Regions from separate parts of the Homo sapiens genome. Here all the other regions are linked to region 1. The links come from fine-mapping of genetic effects on gene expression. A gene starts in region 1. Each other region holds a variant in brackets. All regions are shown on one strand. Distances are from middle to middle.

Evidence for each region. PIP is the estimated chance that this variant, and not a neighbour inherited with it, causes the effect. A credible set is the group of variants that fine-mapping cannot tell apart.
Region 2: its variant is the best candidate, but not a certain one, in a credible set for the expression of LINS1 in whole blood (INTERVAL, PIP 0.86).
Region 3: its variant is the best candidate, but not a certain one, in a credible set for the expression of LINS1 in prefrontal cortex (CommonMind, PIP 0.85).
Region 4: its variant is the best candidate, but not a certain one, in a credible set for the expression of LINS1 in CD4 T cells (CEDAR, PIP 0.73).

The regions. Positions count from the first base shown.
Region 1 is chr15:100,598,047-100,606,277 of GRCh38, reverse strand. LINS1 (lines homolog 1) reads left to right here and starts at 4,094. Exons shown (of 7, transcript NM_001040616.3): 1 at 4,094-4,157. ASB7 (ankyrin repeat and SOCS box containing 7) reads right to left here and starts at 3,689. Exons shown (of 6, transcript NM_198243.3): 1 at 3,232-3,689; 2 at 2,965-3,063. RefSeq lists silencers at 2,907-2,956, 3,407-3,666 and an enhancer at 3,837-4,176.
Region 2 is chr15:100,568,687-100,574,427 of GRCh38, reverse strand. It overlaps LINS1 (lines homolog 1), which reads left to right. Exons shown (of 7, transcript NM_001040616.3): 5 at 187-777; 6 at 2,363-2,534; 7 at 4,311-5,741. The coding sequence ends at 5,190. Among named protein-coding and RNA genes, the nearest start is that of LINS1, 31 kb to the left of the region's middle. The variant C/T (reference allele first, on the strand shown) is at 1,545.
Region 3 is chr15:100,465,511-100,469,510 of GRCh38, reverse strand. CERS3 (ceramide synthase 3) reads left to right here. Exons shown (of 12, transcript NM_001378789.1): 10 at 27-133. Among named protein-coding and RNA genes, the nearest start is that of CERS3, 61 kb to the left of the region's middle. The variant A/CTA (reference allele first, on the strand shown) is at 1,663.
Region 4 is chr15:100,548,918-100,557,148 of GRCh38, reverse strand. It overlaps the pseudogene PRKXP1 and the pseudogene RNU6-322P. Among named protein-coding and RNA genes, the nearest start is that of CERS3, 24 kb to the right of the region's middle. The variant C/TGTGTGC (reference allele first, on the strand shown) is at 3,992.

The DNA.
Region 1 (8,231 bases):
TTTGCAAAGTAAACAAAAATACATGCTGGTAAGAAAATAAATGCAATCAGCAACTCCGACGACATTGGGTCTGAGAAAAAAAAAACAATCCTTCAATGGTTCACATTCACAAGATCTAAGAGGGAAGATGGATGGAAAAACACTACACGGCCGTACCAAAACGGAGAACATGGCTGAGATGCCTGTTCACAAGCTCTACTGATATGATCAGGAGCCTGGAACCCAAAATAAGGTATAAGTGTTATTTTAGTGTCACTCAACAAAGTATAGCATAGTGGTTATGATCCAAAACAAATAAAGGTATTAGTATTTCCTCCAAATTACTGGGCCTCCATATAACATAAGGATTTATTACCATGCACAACTTATCCATGACCCACATAAATTCCAGCAGAGAAACCAATAATTTTCATGAAGTGTGGATGAAGCAACAGAAGAAATTTTGGACTTATCCAGACCCAACTCAAAGCTTAAATCACAAGTATTATAATGATGAGGTCCTGTCAATATTATCTTATTAACCTAGGTCTGCCAACACCATCTTTGTAGCCTCATGTGTCAATTCCTAGAAAGTTTGCAAGAAAGGAGACAATCATCCTACGTAGGGAGGGCATTCAGGGGATTATGATGTGGAAGGCTGAAAGTCAGGTAACAGATATGCCCATATAAATCATATCTGGCTTTAGACTTTTTAGGGATGGTGTGTATCTCTATGTCACCAAAGTTAAACGTGAACAAATTAAAGAGATACTGTATGTGTCATAGTATTAACTAATTGTAAATGACATCACTTTATGTGTAAAGAATGTAAGTACTGGCCACAGTATACTAAAGATGCATCATTGCATATCTTCAATTAAAATCAATTATTCTCCCTACGTGATTATAAATCTATATTTGGTGACGAAATAAATTGGATTTTTTTTAAGCCACATGATTGGCAATAGAATTAATACAAAGCTAACTGCCAGGTTAAAAAATGTAAGCTACCTAACTAGCCATGTTGGTAAATAAATACCCAAATTAAATATTCTAAATGCCTGGTATAATCTAGACCAAATACTCTCAGTCATTCTGATATTAGAAACATGACAGATGTTGACAATTTACACATATTCCCTAATCTTAGAAAAACTATTAAAAAATGAGATGATCCATGAAATACGATTTAAGCAATGAGAATGAACTGGCTGAGAGCCAGAGTAAAGACTTATCCTCTCTTACCTTATGTGCTGGACTAGCCACAGACTCCTTCCCTTTACCATCTCAGGTGAAACTACTCTTTAGAAATGAAAGCGTCCTAGAGTTACATGTAAAGCTGAAAAAATATTTAACTGAGAGGCTTGAATACAAAACACAGTACTTCATTTTGATCTTTAGAACATACTTCAAATATTTTAGCATTTTTTAAAAGTTCTGAAGTAATCATTAGGCCATCTCCCTGACAACTTCCATACTTACATAATAAAAATTAGCCTTTAAAGATTTCCGGGTAGCTTTTACTGAAATGATGTAGTCTAGTACTCCTGATTCCCTACATATACATACAAAAGCTGCCCTAAGTTTTCAACAGGGAACAGTCATTGGTAGATACTGATTCTAAATCCTATTCCCTAGAATCTCTTCTTTTGGCATGCAGTTCCATGTCTCAAGAATATGCATACCTCAGATCCCCTTAAAAGCTATGTCTTTATCTCTTTAGCTATGTCTTAAGAATTAACAGAATCAGTAAAGATACTAATTTCTTTTTGTGGAGGGCAGAAAGTCCAGTGGAACATAGGAAATCAAAAATATTAACTTCTGCTATTTTAAGCACTTCCTTGTAACAAAAATTCCCTAAACAATTTGGGATATTAAAATAACTCAGATTAACAAGTCACTTTATACTTTTGCTACTGGATGTTAAAAAAGTCATCCATTTGGCTAATTTTGGAATTAAACCTTGTATAATTTCCATGCTTATATCCCCCCTTTAGGAATTACACTAATGTCCTAAGTTTACTTTCAGAGCATTTTCAGAAGCAGCAACAAAATATGGCAGCAGAAATGTGATCACATGAATTAGATGCTTAAATTTCAATCCAGCAAACTCTACGTAAAAGTTTTAAAATGAGAAATCTTTTTTATAGAGTGCTAAAATTAAGACCCAGATATGTAAACACACCAAAAGGTTCCTTTGTTTTTAAATTCCTGAGTCAAACGATTAATAAGATATTGTGCAAATTTTTAAAAGTTCTCCTAGAAAATCTGAGGTGTAAGAAACATTGTATCTTTATAAGTTTCAAAGCCCATCCACATTTGTCACACACAAACACACAGAAAGCCCAAAGAGTTAATTATGCCTAAGTGCTTCAGGGTAATAATGTTGTCTTCATACCATTCACACTCTTAAGGTACACAGGTTGGCTTTCTAGTAGGAAATAAAATCAAACTATTTTCTGAAACTCATAAATCTCAGGCCAATAATTTACCTTTCTCTACCAAATCGTTGTCAGTTAGATAACTCAAAAGATTTTTCTGATGCAGGTAGAAGAAAGGTGATAGGAAAGAGTAAGGGGGAAAACAGTAAATTGTGGTTTAATTAAAAAGGAAAGTCATTCAGAATTAACAAGCAATTAACAAGGAATTGAGGAATTCCTATGAGAGTAAGGAAGGGAGGGTAGCTACAAAAAGGTCTCAAAGCCTCAGAGCAGAGTAAATGGCACAGTGTACCAAAAGATAATGAAAAACACAGAAACACACTGTACAGAAAGAAAGTGGGAAAATACTGTCCTGGGTAGAGAAGTTATAAAATGTTAAGTATCAGGCACGGGTAATGTTTTTGTTTTTCCTGGGAAACTGGGGGTGGGGGTGGGGGGGGTAGGAAAGGTTGCATTCCCAGGCAACCACCCTGAAAATAAACCACTGCTTAATGAGGTAGGGGCCAGGAATAAACAACGGGGGAGGGGAGGGCTGGCTCATTACCTTTACAGACGATGCTGGTCAGAGGCACTGTGCCTTCTGCTTCTCTGATAGGTGGGCAGACCTCTTCCTGCTTTCGCGTCTTCTTCAGCCAGCTCAAACCTAGAAAAACAGAAACCAGTGAGTGGTGTAGTGTCTCAGAGGTGGGGAGGGGGGAGCTCAGGAAAGGGGCTGGAGAGTGGCAAGGGCAGGCAAGAAAAAGCAGAGATTTTCCTCCCTCCTACCCTCCCAGCCAGCACTCTTCCCCTCGGGGGAAGTAAAGGACTTTACCTGTCTCCTCAGCTGCTGCTTCTCTTCCTCCTTTCAGCCTCCTCTACACTCACCAACTTCTCCATTGAAGAAATACCCCAGGCAGGGCCGGACCCTGGTGTTCCTGATCCTCCTCGGTGCCTCACGGCCCCAGCCCGGCGAACATCCGAACAGCCGAGAAGGCAGGAGGTGGCGATCCCGGCCGCCGGGCAGCCTTGGGGCAGAGGTGCAGGGAGGCAGGGAGGAAGTCCTGGCTCGGGTGGGGGGGCAGTCCCGGTCCAGGGCTCGGAGCAGGGGGCTGCCGCGCTCCGGGCCGGAGGCTTCCAGCTACGGAGGGACCCAGGAGGTCTCGGGACGGCGAGGTCCCAGGTCATACGGGGCCCGAAGTGCCAGCCGTGGGGTCTCCGGACAGGGGGCTTTCGGGATGCACTTTGCACTGGGCCACCCCCGCCCCCTCCCTTCAGCACTTTGGGGTCACTGGGATGGGACCAAGCCTTCAACAACCAATCAGCGCCCGCAGTGGAGCCTGAGCCTGGAGCCGTAAACCAGGTCCGGGATGGGTGGGGGTGGAGGGAGTAGGGACGACTTGGTTGGTTGGTTGCTTCCTTCTCTCCTCCTTACCCCCGGCAGCCCCCACCCTCTGCCTGCCGTAAAGTTGCCTTTGCATTCGCGACAGTTAAGGGAGGCGTGCCGAACGGGGCAGAGATTCGTCTCCGATTGGTCTCACTCACTTCCCCTTACAGCTTCCCCGTGGTGGCTTCCGAGGCTCCGCCCCTGGCGGAGGGACTCAAAGCCGTTGCTAAGAGACACTATTCGCCGAAGGCGGTCTCTGCGCATGCGGGAGGAGGTGCCAGCTTGTACTTTCTGTGAACTACGGTGGCCCAGAGCGGGCATTTGTGTTCCCTCAAATGGCGGTGTGAAGAGAGTTCGCCTGAGCCAGATCCCAGGCAGGTAACCGGGACCGGCCGCCGTGCTGGCAGCAGGGGAGGCACGAGTGCGGCCAAATGAGAGCCTGGTTCAGGGCTTAAGGTTGGGAGGGCGGCAGGCTCCAGGAAGCGAGTAGAGGGGTGCCTTGTTTCTCCGCCCCTGTTCAGCGCTTGTCAGACGCAAGTGCCCGGTCTTGGCGCGGCTGTCGGTCCTTGAGACCCCGTTAGCTTCCAGGCTGGCAATGCCTCGCCTGAAGTGGGAGAACGGACTCTCTTTGGGATAGCGATGACGATCCAAGGACCTTCCTGAAAGGATAGCAACGTTGGCGGGTTCCTGTGAATGAATGGAGAGGGGTCGTGGGGAAAACGCGAGATAGACTGATCAAGACACGTTTGTTAAGCACTTTATTCATTAGCAAGTGTTTACTGGCCACTGTTCTAGTCCCTGGGGAGACAACAGTGAACAAGATAGTGATTTCGGGGAAACAAACACAAAATTATCAGATAGGGATGGGTTATATGAGGAAAATCAAGCAGAATGGTGGAATCGATTTTGACCAGGACGTGATGGGCTGTATTAGATAGGTAGTGCTATGGTGTGAATATCTGTCCCCTTCAAAACTCATGTTGAAATTTAATCCCCAATGTGGCAGTACTGAGAGGTAGAGTCTTTAAGAGGTGGTTGGACCGTGAGGGTTCTGTCTTCACGAGTGGATTGATCTATTCATGGATTAATGGGTTATCACGGAGGTAGAACTGGTGGCTTTTTAAGGAGAGACTTGACAACTCGTGAGCCTGCTCAGCCCCCTGGCCACGTGATACTTTGCGGTGCTGTCTCGTGGTCCGTCAGTCTTAGACTTCCCAGCCTCCAAAACTAGACAATAAATTACTTTTCTTTATAAATTACCGAGTTTTAGGAATTATTTTATAAGCAACAGGAAACGGACTAAGACAGATAGGAAAGGTCTCTGAGGAAGTGACATTTGAGCAGGGATCTGAATGACAAAGAGCCAGCCATGCCAAGATCTAGGGAGAGAATTTTGCCAGCAGAGAGAATTAGAAATGCAAAGCCTCTGATGCTAGAATATGCTTTGCTGTTTACAGGAACTGCCAGAAAGAAGGCTAGGGTAGCTGAAGCAGAGTGGTAGGAAAATGACTGGTAATGAGACTGGGGAGTGGGGCATAGAGATGAGAAGACGCCGAGAGTCAGATCTTGAAGGGCCTTGGTAAGCCTTGTTTAGGAGTTTGGACTGTATCCTAAGGAAAGTGGATTGGTTTTTCAGAAGGAAGTGGGTGTAGGGTGGGCCTGGATACAACCACTTTGGAAGGGATCGGTTGCAGTTGTCCAGAGTAGAAGTGCAGTAGTGGCAGTGAAGATAGATTCAGCTTTTTAATTTTTGTCCCATTATACTTCCCAGCAATCATATTTCATAATTTCAACTTTCTAAATTTCCATTTCTTCTTGAAATTAGTAGCTGAATTATAATTAGAAACAACTTATTCAGGACTATTAAATGCTATCAATTTTTAGTAGCTTTCGGTCTTTCGATTCTACCATGATTTCTCCCTGTTTTTTTTTTTTTTTTTTTTGCTTAACAGCAGGACTCCAATGTAAACAAATAAAATAAAAGCGGTATTTTATTAGTATTGTTAAATGAAATGTATAGGAAGCCATTGTTTTAGATTAAACCCCTGCACTAGGCCCAACAGACCAGGCCAAATCAGAATGGAGTTGCTGGTGCTAGGTGTCACATAATCAAACAACTTAGAAATGGGCCAGTTGTCAAAAAATCCAGAAGATACACAGCAAGGAGTCAAGGAGGCCTGATTTACCTGAGCCAGCATGATAAAGAAGTCTCTCCTCCATTTGGTCTCTGTGAGGAAAGTTTAACTTTGAAATGACCAATCTGTCTTTTATTCTCTTTTTGCTTCTTCAACCGTTTTCAGCCCACCTCTGCTCAGCTAATCAGAACACCGTTTCTAAATTTTTAGTTGAGATGCTGCCAGATTCATAAATTGCTAATAAAAGCCATTTACATCTTTAAATTTGTTCAAATTTTGTTTGTTTTTGTTTTTGAGATGGAGTCTCCCTCTGTCGCCCAGGCTGGAGTACAGTGGTGCGAGCTTGGCTCACTGCAACCTCCGCCTCCCAGGTTCAAGCAGTTCTCCTGTCCCAGCCTCCTGAGTACCTGGGACTACAGACACACTCCACCACACCCAGCTAATTTTTGTATTTTTAGTGGAGATGGGGTTTTACCACGTTGGCCAGGCTGGTCTCGAACCTCTGACCTCAGGTGATCCACCCGCCTCGGCCTCCCAGAGTGCTGGGATTACAGGTGTGAGCCACTGCACCCAGCCTCAAATTTTGCTTTTTAACAGTTCAAATATAATGTACAAGTTCAGTTTTATAACATTTACTAATTATAGAGTCAAGAAGTTTTGAACTCCCAAAAAGAAGGAAAAAGAGGGAGAGAGAAATGAATAAATATGTAAATTGTTGTGGAGAACATATTCATTCTTATAGCAGACTCGGCACCCATGCAATTCATATGGTGTATTTGCTAAATGATAGTTAAGTAGAGAGATGGGGGCCTAAGAACTTGTTGGTGAAGAGCCTAGAAACAGAGTTGTCTCCTAATTCCTAGTTCTTTGTATTTCTGGCCATTTGTTTTTCATTAAAAATCCTGCCTTTGAGTTAAACAACCATTTTCAAATGATTGAAGTACATGATTATATCATAGCCAAGTAACATCATATTGTCAAAGTTTCACAGAATGTGCTACTAGGTAATTTTAAATTGCTTTATTGAATTGGTGCTATCAGATTTGCTAATTTTTATAACTTTTCAATGATGTAAAAGCAGTTTAGATTGCGGAATATTTATAACAAGTTAATATTGATTAGGTTTTAACAGATACACTTCATTTCCCATTAACTTAGTTAATAATATAAAACTCACAAAAATGGGAACATCTTACAACATATAAGTGAAATAATTTGGGATAAGTATTCATGAAGCTTGATTCATGAAACCCTGACTCAATCAGAATTGAGTTTATTTCTTGAGTAGAAAGAGACTTTGTCATTGGAAAAATGCCCCAGCACCACTGCAGCAATTCTGATTTAGCTGGTCTCTAGGGAGTCCAAGGCTCATGGGTTTTTCCTAATGTTCCAGTGATGTCAGTGTCAAGGTCAGATTCCAAGGTCAAGGACCACTGCCCAGGAGGCTGTGTCCTGGCCCATAAAGCACTTGGTGGTGGAGAGAATGAGCAGGTTATGCTCTAGTTGGCAGCAGGCAGTGTTCTGGGCCAGCAGGTTGTGTCTGGGGATCTTGGTGTAATAAAGAGGGCCACCATAAAGACAGATGCAGCACAGTTTGGAGCCCATCATTTGCCTTGTTAGCCCAACTTAGTTCAGCTGTACCTGGCAGAAAAGGCGATGGGGCTGGGTAGAGAAATTGTATTTCAGACCTTGGTCATCACAGCAAAAAGAACGCCGAAAGAAAGGAAGCTAACTGGAGGCTTTTGAGTTCCTTATAGTTCTTGCCCTGGTAATTTAAGGGATTTTGGTCTTCTATGGTATTCTACCACAGCCATTTTAAGATGGTGCTTCAGTGTGTGTTGCTTCTGTCAAGTACGTTGTCAGATGTGTCATACGGTAAAGACTGAATGAGCTCAGAACTTAATCCCTGCTATGGATACTACTGTTTATAATTCTTTGATACTACATTTTTATTATAATTTAAAATTCACAACTTAAAATATTACATGGTGTTTTTAAAGTTTTTTGAGATCAAAACGGTACTAAAATATACTTTGGGACTGATTTTAGGATTGTTACATATACACTACTAAATTAATCTTCAGCCAGGAATGTATTCCACAAATATAAGTACCTACTGTGTATCAAATGCTGTGCTAGGAGCTAGGGAAGAACCAAGCAGACAACTCTAAATCATAAAAATCATTGCACAAATCGTTAAAGTATAATTGTGACACATTCTGTAAGACAGGGCACCAGAGCTGGAAGACAGTATCACCGGAGGACCTACCCCTGCCAAAGAAAGTCATATTTAAGCCTAAAACAAAAGGGAAA
Region 2 (5,741 bases), 31 kb after region 1:
CCATAAAATGAATTTTAACCGTGGTTCTTACCCATTAATCTGTGTAACCTCATTTGTTAATGTTAGAGGTAAACATTCCAAATCTGTTTTTTCATCTTAAAAAGTGATATTTATAAAAAGTGAATTGTAAAATTGTTTGAAGAAGACTGTTTTTCCTGTTTATAATTCCTATTTTTATAATTGCAGAAATTCTAAAGCAGTTCCTGACTCATTTCGACACCATTTTTGAAGTGTTTTACAATTCCTTATTCTCTCAGCATTTTGAAAACTGCCGGGATACTTCTAAAATAGTAAACATCCTGATGTGTTTCCTGGATTTGCTTGAGCTTCTCATCGCCTCCAGAATCCACCTGAAGTTACATTTCACTTGCCAGAGGATTTTATTTTTGAAACCATCTTGCATGCTAGAAGTTATTACCTGGCCTATTCAGGCTTTTGTTAAAAGGAAGGTCATCATATTCCTCAAAAAGTGCCTTCTCTGTAAAGTGGGTGAAGACCTCTGTCGTGGATCTGTGCCTGCCTTAATGCCGCCAGACCATCATGTAGCGGTGGACATGCTGGCTTTAGCTAATGCTGTTTTGCAAGCTGTGAATTCGGGGTTGTTGAAGACACTGTCTGTTTATGAAAAACATTCCTTTTTTGGAGGTGATGAAGTTCAACCTGAATGTGAACTTATCACTAGTCCAGATCATGTGATCCTTAGAGCAGCAAGCTTAGTTATAATGAAATCCTTAGAAATCAAGTTTCAAAATTATTCTTCAGCAAGTGAAGTGAAAGGTAATTCTCCAAACTCCTTTTGTATGCAGTGTGTAATTATTTACTTAAGTACAGTAATTCATAATTATCAAATCTCAGGACTAGTTTAAATTCCAGTAATTTAAGCTGTATGTTATCCTATTTGTAACTTATTACATTTTCAAAAAAAAAAAAAAGAACTGGATTTACCTTTAAGAAACATGTCAGCTTTTTGTGCCTACAATGAATTTGTAAAGCATAAGGAATGATTTAGGTTTAAAAAAGTTGCTGTTGAGTCATCTCAAAGTAAGTGATGGAAATCAATTCATATTCAAGTATTTACAGCATTTTATTTATATTAATCCTTTTTTTTTTTTTAATCTAAACTGCAGGTGCGTGACCATGGCCCACTGCAGCCCTGACCCCCCTTCGGCCCATGCTATTCCTCCTGTCCCAACCTGGGAGGTCCTAGCCTGGGAGATCAAGGCTACAGTGAGCCGCGACCCATCGCACACCTGCACTCCAGTCCTGGTGCAACAGATGGAGATCCTTTCAGGGAGAGAGAGAGAGAGAGAGGAGAAGACAGAGAGATTAAAGAAAAATATGTTCACTCCCACTTATGTGTTTATTGTTATTATTGTTTGTTGTTATTTCTTTGTTATTGTTGTGTTTACTGTTTATTTATTTTGAGGCAGGGTCTTGCTCTGTCTCCCAGGCTCACTGCAGCCTCAACGTTTTGAGCTGAAGTGATCCTCTCGTCTCTGTTTCCCCACCCCATTTGTATTAATCCTTCATACAATTAGTGTTTC[C/T]ACTAATGTAGATTATTGAAAATTAGATATTGAATTAAAGCTAATATATGAGAAGTTATATTGACAAAGAAATTGTTACATATATAATTTCCAGAATAGTAACTCAGGAGTTCAAAGTCTTCCATTTTACTTGAGAAAAATGAATAGTAAATGTCTCTAAACAGGCAGCATACAGATTCAGTGAAAAGTTTGAATTGTGAGCAATGACATCACTGAATTGCTTTGGATATAATTTAGCTTTTAATAACTACACATTAGTTATAATTCTGTGCAGTTTTAATTTATAACACTAGATGGCACCTGTTATATAATTCAGTTTTAAATTGTAGTTCAAACTACCTAAAACGTTTTTTATTTTTGTGCTTAATAGTAGTACTTCTATGCTTTAAACAAACAAAAAATATGTTTTTCTGTTATTTTGAAGACAAAATTATTTTTGCTTGGTTGCATTCTTGGACAGACAGCTCTGGCATCCGATGAAGTGATCTTAGTTGTCTGCTCATTTATTTATCTGCTTTTAGCAAGAAATCACATAACTTTTATTTCTAAGAGACAGTTGTTAGGCAGTTGTTGCAAATAGATGATGTAGCTGTACATTTTAAATGTATGCTCTGGAATGAGTCACTTTTTTTCCCTGAGCCTCAGTGTCCTCATTTGCCAAATAAAGATGCTTCCTAACTGATTCCTGATGACTTTTTGAAAGTGAATTAGGATAATTGCATCTTAAGGTACTTTAGACACTATGAATTTATATATAGGCAAGATATTCATTCATTCATAAACTATTGCCTACACTTTGAAATTTTCATTTTTTGAAGTTGACTTACAGAGGTTCATGTCTGAGTTACTGACCTTCTTAAAGCCTCATCTTCAGCCCTCTCTGCAATTACACAATCCGTGCAAATGGCTGTCTCGGGTTTTCATAGAACAAGACGATGACATGCTGGAGGCTGCCAAGGCATCACTGGGCATCTACTTAACACTGACCAGGTTAGTGTATTTTAAAGTAATTATTGAACGGCCTACAAGTCAGGAAAGCAGAAAACATTTCTGAGAATGTGCTGGGCGTGTTGCTTACTTTCATCATTTGGGGGAAAACATCCTGTTGCAGTTCCTTTCTTTAACCCTGACTTACATGAAAAGGAGATTGCATTTGTATCGCTAGGAAAACCTGGCTGGCTGGGCAGTTCTCAGGTAGTATAACTAGATTGGTATCTGAAAACATGGCTTCTGATTTGGTCTCCAGTAAGTCAGTACACTTCTCTGAATCTTAATTGTTGTTCATTTAAGACCTCTTTTCACCCCTAAGACTTACTTTTTTGTATTAAGCTTCAGTAAGATGATCTTTGCCTTTGTAAAGGTGAATACAAACTTAGAAATAATCAAAGAAGCTGTTCTGAATTTTCGTTTCAGTCGAATTTGGGCTGATACCTTCTTGAGGCAAATGTCTGAAATTGGTTAAGTTATGTTACTGATGATTTATACTGATTGTCTCTGCTTTATTAAAATAGCTGTACTTGGGTTAATATCTTCTTGTGGCAAATATCTATAATTGGTTATGAAGCTAATAACCGATGACCTTTTCCACTGTTTCTGCTTCTGCTTTATTAAAACCCTCACATATTTGCTTTATTTCCATTTCTTTCTTGGCCTGGGAGAAAGGGATTTCTTGCTAATGATCTGTGGTGCAGCGTTGTGCCGCCAGTACTTACTTGTATTATGACACTGCTGGCAATGGCTGCTCTTAGACTCTTGAGTGTTTGGGGCCAATTTTCAAAAGGTCCTAATCAAGAACACAAAATTCCTGCATGTGATTTGAATTAGGTTCAAAATGGTCAAATACAAGTTCAGTCTGAAAATGCACACGCCTGTAAGAGTGTATCTTAATTGTACTCAAAGTTAGCTCCTTACTCCTCAGGAAGTGGAAACCCCTGAATGAAACTGACTTTGTGTGTGAATTTCTCACTTTCTGAATCCAGTTCAGTGTGTCCAGAGAGGCATGTGCTTACAACATAGATAGTTTTTTTCAGATGTAGTTGTATTTGTTAAGATTTTTTTGGTTGTAAATGATAGAAACCAACTCTAATTTGAGCAAAAGCCAGCATTTATTGGCTCATAACTGGGAATTCTAAAGGGTCAAGTTGGAGTCAGGTATAACTATATGTACAGGGACTATAATCAATCATGTCATCAATCACTTCTCAATTTTTCTCTGTCTCACAGTTTTGAATTCATTCTCAAGGCATGGCCACCGGCAGTTCAAGGCGTACCTCAGCCTTACAGTTATAATCTTCCATAGCTCCAGCAAAAGTCCCAGGGGAGACCTGATTAACCCACTTGGGTCACAGAGCCTTGTCAGAACCAGTCATTGTGGCCAGGAGCATGGAGTGCTCTGATTGGTCAATCTGGGTCACATGCCCACCCTTGTTGAGGGTAAGGAAGGAGGTTTAGGAATTATCTTACCACATGGAATTGGTTACCTATAAGAATGAGGAGTTCTGATGTCGAGAGAAAGAACAACAGGTAACTTTTATTGGGCAGACAAAAACTAGAACTGCCAAAGTCAGTGGATTTTGCTTTACTGAGTCAGATTTCTTTAGAGCTTATGGGGAAGGGAATGGGTTTTGAAATTTTTTCTTTTAAGAAGTGATGCATAGATTTAAAAGTAATCTAATAGGTTAATTTATGGTATGTGAATTATATCTGGTAAAACTGTTTATTTTTGTAAGGTCATTAATCTGCATTCTCCATTATCTTCATTTTCAGAGGATGTGAAGCCACTGAAAGCTTGACTCAGGGAAAAGAAATGTGGGACCATCACACACATGAAAATGGCTATAATCCTCACTGTATTTTCTTGTTCTTCTTGAAAAATATAGGATTTGATTCCACAGTTCTTCTTGACTTTTTGATTTCATCAGAAACCTGTTTTCTTGAATATTTTGTTAGATATTTAAAATTACTGCAAAAGGACTGGGATAATTTTTTCACCATTTGCAATAACTTTGATGCAACTGAATCTAAATATGACATAAGTATTTGTGGCTGTGTCCCCTCACTTGTCCAAGACCAAAGCTCCAACCAAACAATACCCCATCGTTTGACTGCTCCTCATAGTCACAGAGATGTGTGTGCTCGGCACTCCTGGGCTTCCGATGCTCCCTCTGAACCACTGAAAGCTGTGATGTCCAAGGGGGCTCACACCATGTGTGCTTCTAGTCTGTCTTCCCCCCGGGCCTCTCAAAGTCTGGTAGATTACGACAGCTCTGACGATTCTGACGTGGAATCCACAGAGCAGTGTTTAGCTAACAGTAAACAGACATCTTTACACCAGCAAGCAACTAAGGAGATTCAGGATGCAGCTGGGACAAGCAGGGATAAAAAAGAATTTAGCCTTGAGCCTCCATCAAGGCCTCTGGTTCTGAAAGAATTTGATACTGCCTTCTCCTTTGATTGTGAAGTAGCCCCAAATGATGTCGTCTCTGAAGTGGGAATATTTTACAGAATAGTAAAATGCTTCCAGGAACTACAAGATGCCATCTGCCGTTTGCAAAAGAAAAATCTTTTCCCATATAATCCAACTGCACTTTTGAAGTTGTTAAAATACATAGAGGTGATAAGTAATAAAACTATGAACACTTTGTAAAACATTGACATTTTATTTTCCAGGTATTGTTTTTCCTTAATATAAATTATGTCTCAATGAGGTAATAGTATAAAATCATCACCATAAAAGGGTTTTCTTTTTTTTTTTTTTTTTTGAGACAGAATCTCATTCTGTCGCTCAGGCCGGAGTGCAGTGGCGTGACTCGACTCACTGCAACCTCCACCTCCTGGGTTCAAGCAATTCTCCTGCCTCAGTCTCCCGAGTAGCTGGAATTACAGGTGCCCGCCACCACGCCCAGCTAATTTTTGTATTTTTAGTAGAGACGGGGGTTTCACCATGTTGCCAGGCTGGTCTCAAACTCCTGACCTCAAGTGATCCGCCTGTCCGCCCTCCCGAAGTGCTGGGATTACAGGCATGAGCCACTGTGCCCGGCTGGGTTTTCTAGACAAGTTCTTACTTTTTGCCTTATTGGAAGCAACCTAGTGACTGAAAAAGAGACATCAAGTGACAAGTCACTCATTATAGCTATATACCACTGGAGATTTATGGCAGTTCTAAGTGACACAAAATCGGGGGTGGTGATTGCGTTC
Region 3 (4,000 bases), 130 kb after region 1:
ATCTGCAGTTTCTTTCTTTTTTGCAGTCTGCTAAGATGTTTTCTTATGCTGGATGGACGCAGACCTGTAACACCCTGTTTTTCATCTTCTCCACCATATTTTTCATCAGCCGCCTCATTGTTTTTCCTTTCTGGTGAGTAGACCGGTGATGTGCCCTGCCTTTGGTCAGTGTGCAGAGGTGGCCTCAGTGCATGGTTACCCTCAGGGCATTGCCCTTTCCATACGTGGGTCTCCAGTTATTTGTGTCAAGTGCAGTTGGAGAAAAGAATGTGATGGAGCCATTTTTATAAATAATTAAAACAACACTCTGTGGTGTGGAAAAGGCTTATTACAACGGGAGATGGAAAATGTGTGACCTGACGGGCAAGCAGCAGCTCTTACTCTGTCTTGTTTCATGGATGTAGACCTTTCTTTGTGATTAACAGCTTTTCTAGTCACTCAATGAAAAGTCACTGTCCAATCACCAGTTCTCTAAAAGAGAGGTATGTTCTGTGTTACAATAATTATAGCCATTACTTGAATGCCAGACACTGGATTAGGTCCTTCCCATATCTTGGCTCTAGTCTACACAATAACTCATAAGGATGAGTATTATCACTTCCACTTCCCAGATAAGGAAAACTGATACTTGTTTATTTCATTCTCTATGACCACTGGTTCTAATTATGGTTTGAGTATCCTTTCGATATGATTGGCTCTCGATCAGTCTGTTGATTTTGTTTAGCCACAGACCAGCAATGAAAAGCATATATTACATCTCCCATGACAATCATTTCCTTGGGAAGCATAATGTTCCATGTGTTGATTGACAGAAACCAGAGTAACATGTGGGGAAGACTTAGATGGTTTGGAAGGAACAGCTTTTAACCAACCATAATTTGGGGCTAGTCTGGGAACTTGGGATCCTCCAAACAGAAGACTTAGTGCTGTTGAAGAGCCTAGATGCAGGGGAAATGGATGGAGACTCAAGTTCCAGGCCTCATTCTTAAGTGTATAGACAGCACCCTTGGCTGGCATCCAGGGAAATCCAGCCAGAGAGGTCAATGCCCTTTCCTGGAAGCCAGCTGCATTCTTTAGACCATGTGTATTCGGCATTTTCTGGAGAGGAACAACAGAGTGTAGTGGTTAAGTTGCTACATGTGAGAGTCCATCCTGGATTTAAATCCTGACTCCACACTTACGACCTTTGTGATCTTGAACAGGTTATACCACCTCTCTGTGCCTCAGTTTTCTCATATGTAAAATGGAAATAAGGGTTGGCATGAGGCTTAACTAGTTTATATAGTTTGGAACAATGTCTGGTACTCAGTAAAGAATCAGTAAATACTACCTACTATAATTAAACATATTAATGAGTATCTCAGAATTTGAAGTTCAACTAGAATCAAATCTAAGATAAATGTCTCAGATATTTTCCTTGGTTGATAAATCATTACCATCACTTTTACTTTGACTGAGCAAGTGTGTTTGTGAAATTTTAGTAATGGCTGGGCATGGTGGTGCATGCCTATAGTCCCAGCTACTCAGGAGCCTGAGGTTGGCGGGGGGGTCACTTAAGCCCAGGAGTTCTAGATCAGCCTGGGCAACATAGTGAGACCCTGTCTTTAAATATATCTATATCTATATCTATATCTATCTATCTATCTATCTATCTATCTATAT[A/CTA]TATATATATACACGTATATATATACACATATATATAGACGTATATATATATACATATATATGTGTGTATATATATATAGAGAGAGAGAGAGAGAGAGAGAGAATGATAGCAATTATTGATAGAATAATATTGACTTGCTGATGACAGTTGGGCATAGCTTTTCAGTGTGACTTTCATGACACTATCAATCCAGCATTTGCCCCTCAGTTCGCCATGTCCCAAAGGCACTACACGTTCCAATTGCCTGTTGCTGTATAACACAGCATCTAAAAGTCTAGTGGCTTAAGACAGCAGTGGGCAAACTTTTTCTTTAAAAGGCCAGAGAATATATATTTTAGGCTTTGAGGGCCACCTATGATCTTTTTTGCAAGTTTTTATTCATTTTATTTTGTTTTATAATCCTTTAAAAATGTACCAAGCCATACTTACTTAGCTCATGGGCTGTACGAAAACATACACCCAGGTTGCAGGCCGGATTTTACCCACAGGCCATAGTTTGCAGACCTCTGTCTTAAGACAACAACATTTATTAATTATTATTATTATTATTTCTCATGGTTCTAGGAGTCGATTGGCCTTGGCTAGATGATTTTCACTTAGGGTCTCTTGTGTGGTTACAGTTATATGGCGGCTGGGCAGTCACATAGTGTCTAGAGTCCTCAACACATGGCTGAAGTCATATATAGAAAATCAGGCTAGGTGCAGTGGCTCACGCCTATATCCCGGTACTTTGGGAGGCCGAGGCAGGTGGATCACCTGAAGTCAGGAGTTCGAGACCAACCTGCCCAACATGGTGAAACCCCATCTCTACTAAAAATACAAAAAAATTAGCCGGGTGTGGTGGCACATGCCTATAATCCCAGCCACTCGGGAGCCTGAGGCAGGAAAAGTGCTTGAACCTGGGAGACGGAGGTTGCAGTGAGCCGAGATTGTGCCACTGCACTCCAGCCTGGGCAACAGAGAAAGACTCCATCAAGAAAGAAAGAAAGAAAGAGAGAAAGAGAGAGGGAGAGAGGGAGAGAGGGAGAGAGGGAGGGAGGGAGGGAGGGAGGGAGGAAGGAAGGAAGGAAGGAAGGAAGGAAGGAAGGAAGGAAGGAAGGAAGGAAGGAAAGAAGGAAAGAAGATAAGAAAATCAGCTGGCTGATGCTGCTTGTGCTTATTGGCTGGGACTTCAGCTGGGGGCTGTCCGCTGGAATACCCACAGCCCCTCTAGTTGGCCTTGGCCTCCTCATCGCATGGCACCTGCATTTCAAGGGTGAGCATTTCAAGAGAGTGCTAGAGAGATGCTGCATCTTTTTTCATAAACAGCCTCAGTAGTCACATCACGTCATTTCCAACCTTGTATTTTTTATTGGAACCAGGTCACTAAATCTGACTCATATTCAAGGGAAGGAAAACTAGACTCCATTTCTTGATGGGAGCAGTTTCGAAGAATTTGCGGATGTTTTTAAAAAGCACACACCATGGAAGCTCTAGGTCCAGGGAACTCTCTGAGAAGTTTCTGCAATATTGCTGCCATGGTTGGCTTTTGATTTAGCAATGGAGAACATTCACCTCAGACTATCCCATGATGTCTCAAAATAAACAAGCAAGCTTACTTACCCATAAACAATTGAGCAACACAGTGGTGCTCAGTGATTGTCGGGGTAGTGCGCTATTTTCCCACACTGTTGTCTTTAAAAACCCTACATTTAAGAACTCATTCTCATGCCAGCATTTCTGGTTTTCAAGGAGAATTGAGTTACATGTGTTTGGCATTTTCTTGATCTTTATACTGAATTCACTTGCCCATTGGAGAGGGCAGCCAGTACTCCTATTTGCTGTCTTCAAGGAGTTGGGTTGCAAATAAACCAATATGAACAGACTTGACTGTAAAATAAAACGAAACAGGCCAGGCACGGTAGCTCACGCCTGTAATCCCAGCACTTTGGGAGGCCAAGGCAGGAGGATCACCTGAGGTCAGGAGTTCGAGACCAGCCTGGTCAACATGGTGAAACCCCATCTCTACTAAAAATACAAAAATTAGCCGGGTGTGATGGCGAGTGCCAGTAATCCCAGCTACTCGGGAGGCTGAGACAGGAGAATCACCTGAAACTGGGAAGTGGAGGTTGCAGTGAGCCAAGATTTTGCTATTGCACTCCAGCCTGGGTGACAAGAGTGAAACTCCATCTCAAAAAAAAAAAAAAAAGTTCAAAACAACAGCAAAAACTTTTCCTGGTAAAAATATTTCTGTATTGACGTTGACTGATTCTCATTGTTTGGAAAGTTGAGAAAAACCTCACCAAGCCATTGGAAGTTTGGCAGATCAATTTTCAATGGTCTCTGAAGGAAGTATGT
Region 4 (8,231 bases), 49 kb after region 1:
CCACCCGTCCCTCATCTGCGTCCTGAAGGAATCATCCACCCGTTCCTCATCGGCGTCCCGAAGGAAGTCATCCGCCCGTTCCTCATCTGCGTCCTGAAGGAATCATCCACCCGTTCCTCATCGGCGTCCCGAAGGAAGTCATTCGCCCGTTCCTCATCTGCGTCCTGAAGGAATCATCCACCCGTTCCTCATCGGCGTCCCGAAGGAAGTCATCCGCCCGTTCCTCATCTGCGTCTGGAAGGAAGTCATCCACCCGTCCCTCATCTGCGTCCTGAAGGAATCATCCGCCCGTCCCTCATCTGCGTCTGGAAGGAAGTCATCCACCCGTCCCTCATCTGCGTCTGGAAGGAAGTCATCCGCCCGTCCCTCATCTGCGTCCGGAAGGAAGTCATCCACCCGTCCCTCATCTGCGTCCGGAAGGAGGTCATCCGCCCGTTCCTCATCTGCGTCTGGAAGGAATCATCCACCCGTCCCTCATCTGCGTCCGAAGGAAGTCATCCGCCCGTCCCTCATCTGCGTCCGGAAGGAGGTCATCCGCCCGTTCCTCATCTGCGTCCTGAAGGAGGTCATCCGCCCGTTCCTCATCTGCGTCTGGAAGGAAATCATCCGCCCGTTCCTCATCTGCGTCCGAAGGAAGTCATCCACCCGTCCCTCATCTGCGTCCGGAAGGAAGTCATCCGCCCGTCCCTCATCTGCGTCCTGAAGGAAGTCATCCGCCCGTTCCTCATCTGCGTCTGGAAGGAAGTCATCCGCCCGTCCCTCATCTGCGTCCTGAAGGAATCATCCACCCGTCCCTCATCTGCGTCCGGAAGGAATCATCCACCCCTCCCTCATCTGCGTCCGGAAGGAGGTCATCCGCCCGTTCCTCATCTGCGTCCAGAAGGAATCATCCACCCGTCCCTCATCTGCGTCCAGAAGGAAGTCATCCACCCGTCCCTCATCTGCGTCCGGAAGGAAGTCATCCACCCGTCCCTCATCTGCGTCCTGAAGGAAGTCATCCGCCCGTTCCTCATCTGCGTCTGGAAGGAAGTCATCCGCCCGTCCCTCATCTGCGTCCGGAAGGAATCATCCGCCCGTCCCTCATCTGCGTCTGGAACGAAGTCATCCGCCCGTCCCTCATCTGCGTCCTGAAGGAATCATCCACCCCTCCCTCATCTGCGTCTGGAAGGAAGTCATCCGCCCGTCCCTCATCTGCGTCCTGAAGGAATCATCCACCCGTTCCTCATCGGCGTCCCGAAGGAAGTCATCCGCCCGTCCCTCATCTGCGTCTGGAAGGAAGTCATCCGCCCGTCCCTCATCGGCATCCTGAAGGAATCATCCACCCGTTCCTCATCGGCGTCCCGAAGGAAGTCATCCGCCCGTCCCTCATCTGCGTCTGGAAGGAAGTCATCCGCCCGTCCCTCATCTGCGTCCGGAAGGAAGTCATCCGCCCGTCCCTCATCTGCGTCCTGAAGGAAGTCATCCGCCCGTCCCTCATCTGCGTCTGGAAGGAATCATCCACCCGTCCCTCATCTGCGTCTGGAAGGAAGTCATCCACCCGTCCCTCATCTGCGTCCTGAAGGAATCATCCACCCGTCCCTCATCTGCGTCTGGAAGGAAGTCATCCGCCCGTCCCTCATCTGCGTCTGGAAGGAAGTCATCCGCCCGTCCCTCATCTGCGTCCGGAAGGAGGTCATCCGCCCGTCCCTCATCTGCGTCCTGAAGGAATCATCCACCCGTTCCTCATCGGCGTCCCGAAGGAAGTCATCCGCCCGTCCCTCATCTGCGTCTGGAAGGAAGTCATCCGCCCGTCCCTCATCTGCGTCCTGAAGGAATCATCCGCCCGTCCCTCATCTGCGTCCGGAAGGAGGTCATCCGCCCGTTCCTCATCTGCGTCTGGAAGGAATCATCCACCCGTCCCTCATCTGCGTCCGGAAGGAAGTCATCTGCCCGTCCCTCATCTGCGTCTGGAAGGAATCATCCACCCGTCCCTCATCTGCGTCCTGAAGGAATCATCCACCCGTCCCTCATCTGCGTCCGGAAGGAGGTCATCCGCCCGTTCCTCATCTGCGTCCGGAAGGAATCATCCACCCGTCCCTCATCTGCGTCCTGAAGGAATCATCCACCCATCCCTCATCTGCGTCTGGAAGGAAGTCATCCGCCCGTCCCTCATCTGCGTCCTGAAGGAAGTCATCCGCCCGTTCCTCATCTGCGTCTGGAAGGAAGTCATCCGCCCGTCCCTCATCTGCGTCCTGAAGGAATCATCCACCCGTTCCTCATCTGCGTCCTGAAGGAAGTCATCCACCCGTCCCTCATCTGCGTCTGGAAGGAATCATCCACCCGTCCCTCATCTGCGTCCTGAAGGAATCATCCACCCGTCCCTCATCTGCGTCTGGAAGGAAGTCATCCGCCCGTCCCTCATCTGCGTCCTGAAGGAATCATCCACCCGTCCCTCATCTGCGTCCTGAAGGAATCATCCACCCGTTCCTCATCGGCGTCCCGAAGGAAGTCATCCGCCCGTCCCTCATCTGCGTCTGGAAGGAATCATCCGCCCGTTCCTCATCTGCGTCCGGAAGGAATCATCCGCCCGTCCCTCATCTGCGTCCCGAAGGAAGTCATCCGCCCGTCCCTCATCTGCGTCCCGAAGGAAGTCATCCGCCCGTCCCTCATCTGCGTCCGGAAGGAAGTCATCCGCCCGTCCCTCATCTGCGTCCGGAAGGAAGTCATCCACCCGTCCCTCATCTGCGTCCGGAAGGAAGTCATCCACCCGTCCCTCATCTGCGTCCGGAAGGAAGTCATCCGCCCGTCCCTCATCTGCGTCCGGAAGGAATCATCCACCCGTCCCTCATCTGCGTCCTGAAGGAATCATCCACCCGTTTCTCATCAGGCTGTGCTGGACGGGGCATGACTAGCGCTTCCTCTGCAGGCTCATGGAGTATGTTCCGGGCTGTGAGCTCTTCAGCTACCTGCGCAACCGGGGGCTCTTCTACTCTGCAGAGATCATCTGTGCCATCCTGCACTCTAAGGAGATCATCTACAGGGACTTGAAGCCGGAGAACATCCTGCTGGATAGGGACGGACACATCAAGCTCACGGACTTTGGGTTCGCCAAGAAGCTGGTAGACAGGACTTGGACCCTCTGCGGAATACCCGAGTACCTGGCCCCCGAAGTCATTCAGAGCGAGGGTCACGGAAGGGCTGTGGACTGGTGGGCCCTCAGCATCCTGATATTCGAGATGCTCTCGGGATTTCCTCCATTTGTGTGTGTGTGTGTGTGTGTGTGTGTGTGTGTGTGTGTGTGTGACAACATGTTTGGCATTTATCAGAAAATTCTTGCAGACAAGATAGATTTCCCCAGACATTTGGATTTCCATGTGAAAGATCTCATTAAGAAACTGCTCGTGGTTGACAGAACAAGGTGGTTAGGAAATATGAAGAACGGGGCGAATGATGTGAAACGCCATCGGTGGTTCCGCTCTGTGGACTGGGAAGCTGTTCCTCAGAGAAAACTGAAGCCTCCCATCGTGCCCAAGATAGCCCGCGAAGGCGACACCTCCAACTTCGGAACTTACCCCGAGAATGACTGGGACACAGCCGCGACCGTGCCGCAGAAGGGTTTAGAAATCTTCAAGAATTTCTGAGGACAGGAGCTCACATCTGGAAGAAGCAGGAAGGCTGGAATCTGCCTGCAACAAAGAGCTGCTCCTGAGCAGACCAGTAGCAATGTCTTCTTCACGTGATAAGGACATTTCCACTTTTCTGTCTTTGTGCCTGTATGTATAGAAACAGATCAGAGCACAGTTGAAATTAATGTAACTGGCATTATTTAAGCAACTGGAATTCCACACTGTAGGAAGGTTTTGAAAATTGTTTGCTTGTAGATTTTATCTTATCCTTTAGTGTTGTGTTCCTACTGTGATGTCTTGGTTTTTCTCATAGACTTAAGTTTATAAGTTTGAACTGGACTTGTTCAATTATAACCACAAATTGTGTGTGTGTGTGTGTGTGTGTG[C/TGTGTGC]ATGCGCGCGCCTGTGTGTATATATAGAAGTCATTATGGCAGATCCACAGAAATTGTGCAATGATGTAAATGTTCATACTTCACAGAGCCTATAATTTTTATTTTTCAATTTGTTTTTTCAAAAATCTCTTCTCTTGGGGACAACATCTGAAGGGTCTGTTGCATGGATTTAAAAAAATCATCTCACATGCATTTTTTAGTTTGGGTGAAGAAAACATCATGGGGAGGTCCATCTTCAGTATCTTTAGTGCTTCCTACCTGGTAACTTGAGACTTTAAAAGAAGAAACAAAGAGAAGAAGATATGGGAGTGAATTTATTCCAAGAATCTACAATGACATTGAAGTTGTTGGAGGAATATACTGTATTTAAAAAACCTGTGTCACATTCAAAAATTTCATCTAAGCTGGGCGCAGTGGCTTGTTCCTGTAGTCCCAGCACTTCAGGAGGCTGAGGTGGGTGGATTGCTTGAGCCCAGGAGTTGGAGACCAGTCTGGGAAACATGGTGAGATGTCATCTCTCTACAAAATACAAAAAAATTAGCCGGGCATGGTGGCGCTTGCCTATAGTCTCAGCTACTCGGGAGGCTGAAATGAGAGGATCACTTGAGCCCGGGGAGGTCCAGGCCGCAGTGATCCGAGATCACACCACTGCACTCCAGCCTGGGTGACAGAGTGAGACCCTGTCTAAATTAAAAAAAAAAAAAAGGCAATGGCTTTGTGCTTTTGAAGGTGGAATGAAAGGTGGAATGAAGACACATCCACCTTAAGGCTTTAAAAGACCATGAAGCTGGGTGCAGTGGCTCACTCCTGTAATCCTAGGATTTGGGGAAGCCAAGGCAGGAGGATTGCTTGAGCCTAGGAGTTTGAGACCAGCCTGGGCAGCATAGCAAGACCCCATCTCTATAAAAGGAAAAAAATGTTAAAACACAGTGAAACTGCAGAAACAGAACATAGCCACCCTTTTTCATTAATGACCTTTTCTTCACGTGGTGGTCAACTCAGCAGGTGAGAATAATTAGTAGGTTCAGTAGAATAAAGTCTTTACAATTAATAACTTAGTGGAAAATGATGTTCAGATGATGAAATGTGGAAATGTTTTAGACAGCTGTATTTTCAGCCTGTGTGTCTCAGTCACCATCCTGTTGGGATTAACAGTTGAGGGCCATCATTTTCTAAACATTTCACATGCAGTTTCCCATAATTTTTACCGTGAATGTGAAAAGGTGAAACTGGTGCTGACTTCAGCGGCAGGTATACTAAAATTAGAATGACACAGAGGAGATTAGCATGGCCCCCTGTGCAAGGAAGATCCAGATTCATGCCGCATTCCATATTTTTTTTTAAAAAAGGTTACACTGTGCACCGAGATGTGCAGCTAGAAGGAAGAGCATGAAGTCTCGTGTTTGCTGACTATAAAAATAAATCATAGTAATAATATTGTTGAAAATTCTGCTTTAAAAATTATTAATAAAACCATAAATGAAACACTATTCTTGAGCACACTTTAAAAAGTACATAGACCCATAAGTCCATGTACTAAAAAATGCCTATTTTTAGGTTGCCTGTTTTGTAATCCAGGATTTCATACTGAGATGAAAATTAGCATCAGGAAAAGCCTGAAATGCCTTGCCTTAATTGTGAACAGATACTGGGGAACCTGCCCCGATATTCACGTAGGTTCTTTTCTGTTTTCCTTAAGCATCGGCCAGCTTGAGAAATAAAGGGACAGAGTACAAAAGAGAGAAATTTTAAAGCTGAGCGTCCGGGGGAGACATCACATGTCGGTAGGTTCCGTGATGCCCCACAAGCCACAAAAACCAGCAAGTTTTTATTAGGGATTTTCAAAAGGGGAGGGAGTGTGCGAATAGGTGTGGGTCACAGACATCAAGTACTTCAGAAGGTAATAGAATATCACAAGGCAAGTGGAGGCAGGGTGAGATCACAGGACCACAGGACCGAGGCGAAATTAAAATTGCTAATGAAGTTTCGGGCACCATTGTCATTGATAACATCTTATCAGGAGACAGGGTTTTTGAGATCAACCGGTCTGACCAAAATTTATTAGGCGGGAATTTCCTCTTCCTAATAAGCCTGGGAGCGCTATGGGAGACTGAGGTCTATTTCACCCCTGCAGTCTTGACCATAAGAGATGACCACGCCCAGGGGGGCCAGTTCAGAGACCCACCCCCAGGCGCACATTCTCTTTCTCAGGGATGTTCCTTGCTGAGAAAAATAATTCAGCGATATTTCTCCCATTTGCTTTTGAAAGAAGAGAAATATGGCTCTGTTCCGCCTGGCTCACCGGCAGTCAGAGTTTAAGGCTATCTCTCTTATTCCCTGAACAATTGCTGTTATCCTGTTCTTTTTTCAAGGTACCCAGATTTCATACTGCTCAAACACACATGCTGTACAATTTGTGCAGTTAATGCAATTATTACAGGGTCCTGAGGTGACATACATCTTCGTCAGCTGACAGGATTAAGAGATTAAAGACAGGCATAGGAAATCACAAGAGTATTGATTGGGGAAGTGATAAGTGTCCATGAAATCTTTACAATTTATGTTTAGAGATTGCAGTAAAGACAGGCATAAGAAATTACAAAAGTATTAATTTGGGGAACTAATAAACGTCCATGAAATCTTCACAATCCACGTTCTTCTGCCATGGCTTCAGCCGGTCCCTCCGTTTGGGGTCCCTGACTTCCCGCAACAAACAGATATGCATGAAAATGAAATATGCAAAGCACATTGATGACCTTGTTCTTTACGGACATTGTAATCAGCCTCTAGCCATACAGAACAAATGAGAAATTAGAAGCACTTCCAAGAACGTGTGATGGTGTGAAACCCACTTTTGACCATCATGCACATTTCAACATTTGAAGTGAGACAGGCTACCTGGTAACTGCCCCATGGCGGGGTCATAGTTTAAATGGCCCAATGTCCTGTAGAGGTTAATTTAATCAAAATGAGCTATAAACATAGAACAATCACTATGTATAATTTTAAAATAGTTTACCTGGCCCGTCATGGTGGCTCACGCCTGTGATCCCAGCACTTTGGGAGGCCGAGGTGGGCAGATCACCCACGGTTGGGAGTTCGAGACCAGCCTGGCCCGCATGGCGAAACCCCCATCTCTACTAAAACTACAAAAATTAGGCATGCTGGTGGGTGCCTGTGGCCCCAGCTGCTCAGGAGGCTGAGGCAGGAGAATCGCTTGGATTCGGGAGGCGGAGGCTGCAATGAGCCAGGATTGTGCCTCTGCACTCTAGCCTGGGTGACAGGGCAAGACTCCATCTCAAAAAATAAAAATAAAAATAGTTTATCTGGGTGGGCATTCCAAAATTTCCGCATAGATGATCACGTGAAACAATCACTGTGCTAAATGTGGAGGAAAATTCATCACGATAATCACAAAATTTGTATCAGAAAAAAATTACAAATGTACTTTGTTTCATGTAATTTTATGAGTTGGAAGTATTTTCTTAAATTGGAACACTATAAGATAATATCTTTAGGAAATGGATATGCCACAATAGGAAGTATAGTGGGGCAAGTCTTGTTTTTCTCAAGGGAAAAGCCACCAGCCTGCTTTCATAGGCATTGATAAAACCAGGAAGAAAATAAAGTCACAACCAAATAGTATACACTGTCTCTACTGAATTCTTCTAATTCCTTCCCAACAGAAGTCTAAATCCTGCTTAGCCTAAACATATCTATAGCCAGCGATGGGCAAATTATATTTGCTGTCAGCATGATAGAATAAGAATCAGAAACCCCCCAGCAGTGGGGTAAGATCGTGCACTTCATCCCCTCAAAATGCTGTCAACCCCATTCCCTCTCCATGCCCTCAAACAACTGCACAGTCACTTGTTAGTGAATTTCTCGTTCAGCGTTTTGTTTTTTTCTCTCCATACTTAAAGACCAAATCATTTGTTTGCTCTGAAGAAAAAGAAAAAACAAAACAAAACAAAAAACCACCCACCAAATCATTTGAAATCACTACCCGTTAAAAAAAATCACCAGTGGAACTAAACAGTTGAGTGGTTTGGGATGTGTTCGCCATTTCTGTGTTTGACCTACATGGCCTCTAGTTCTTTGGACCACTGTAACTGTGAAACCATGGCTTAATACTGTTAAAGACCCCAAGGCTCAACTCTGTAGCCAGGGTGTACCTCAGGCTGCACAAATATCACACCAGAATGTCACAATCATTCATTGCTCCAGCTACTGAGTGAAC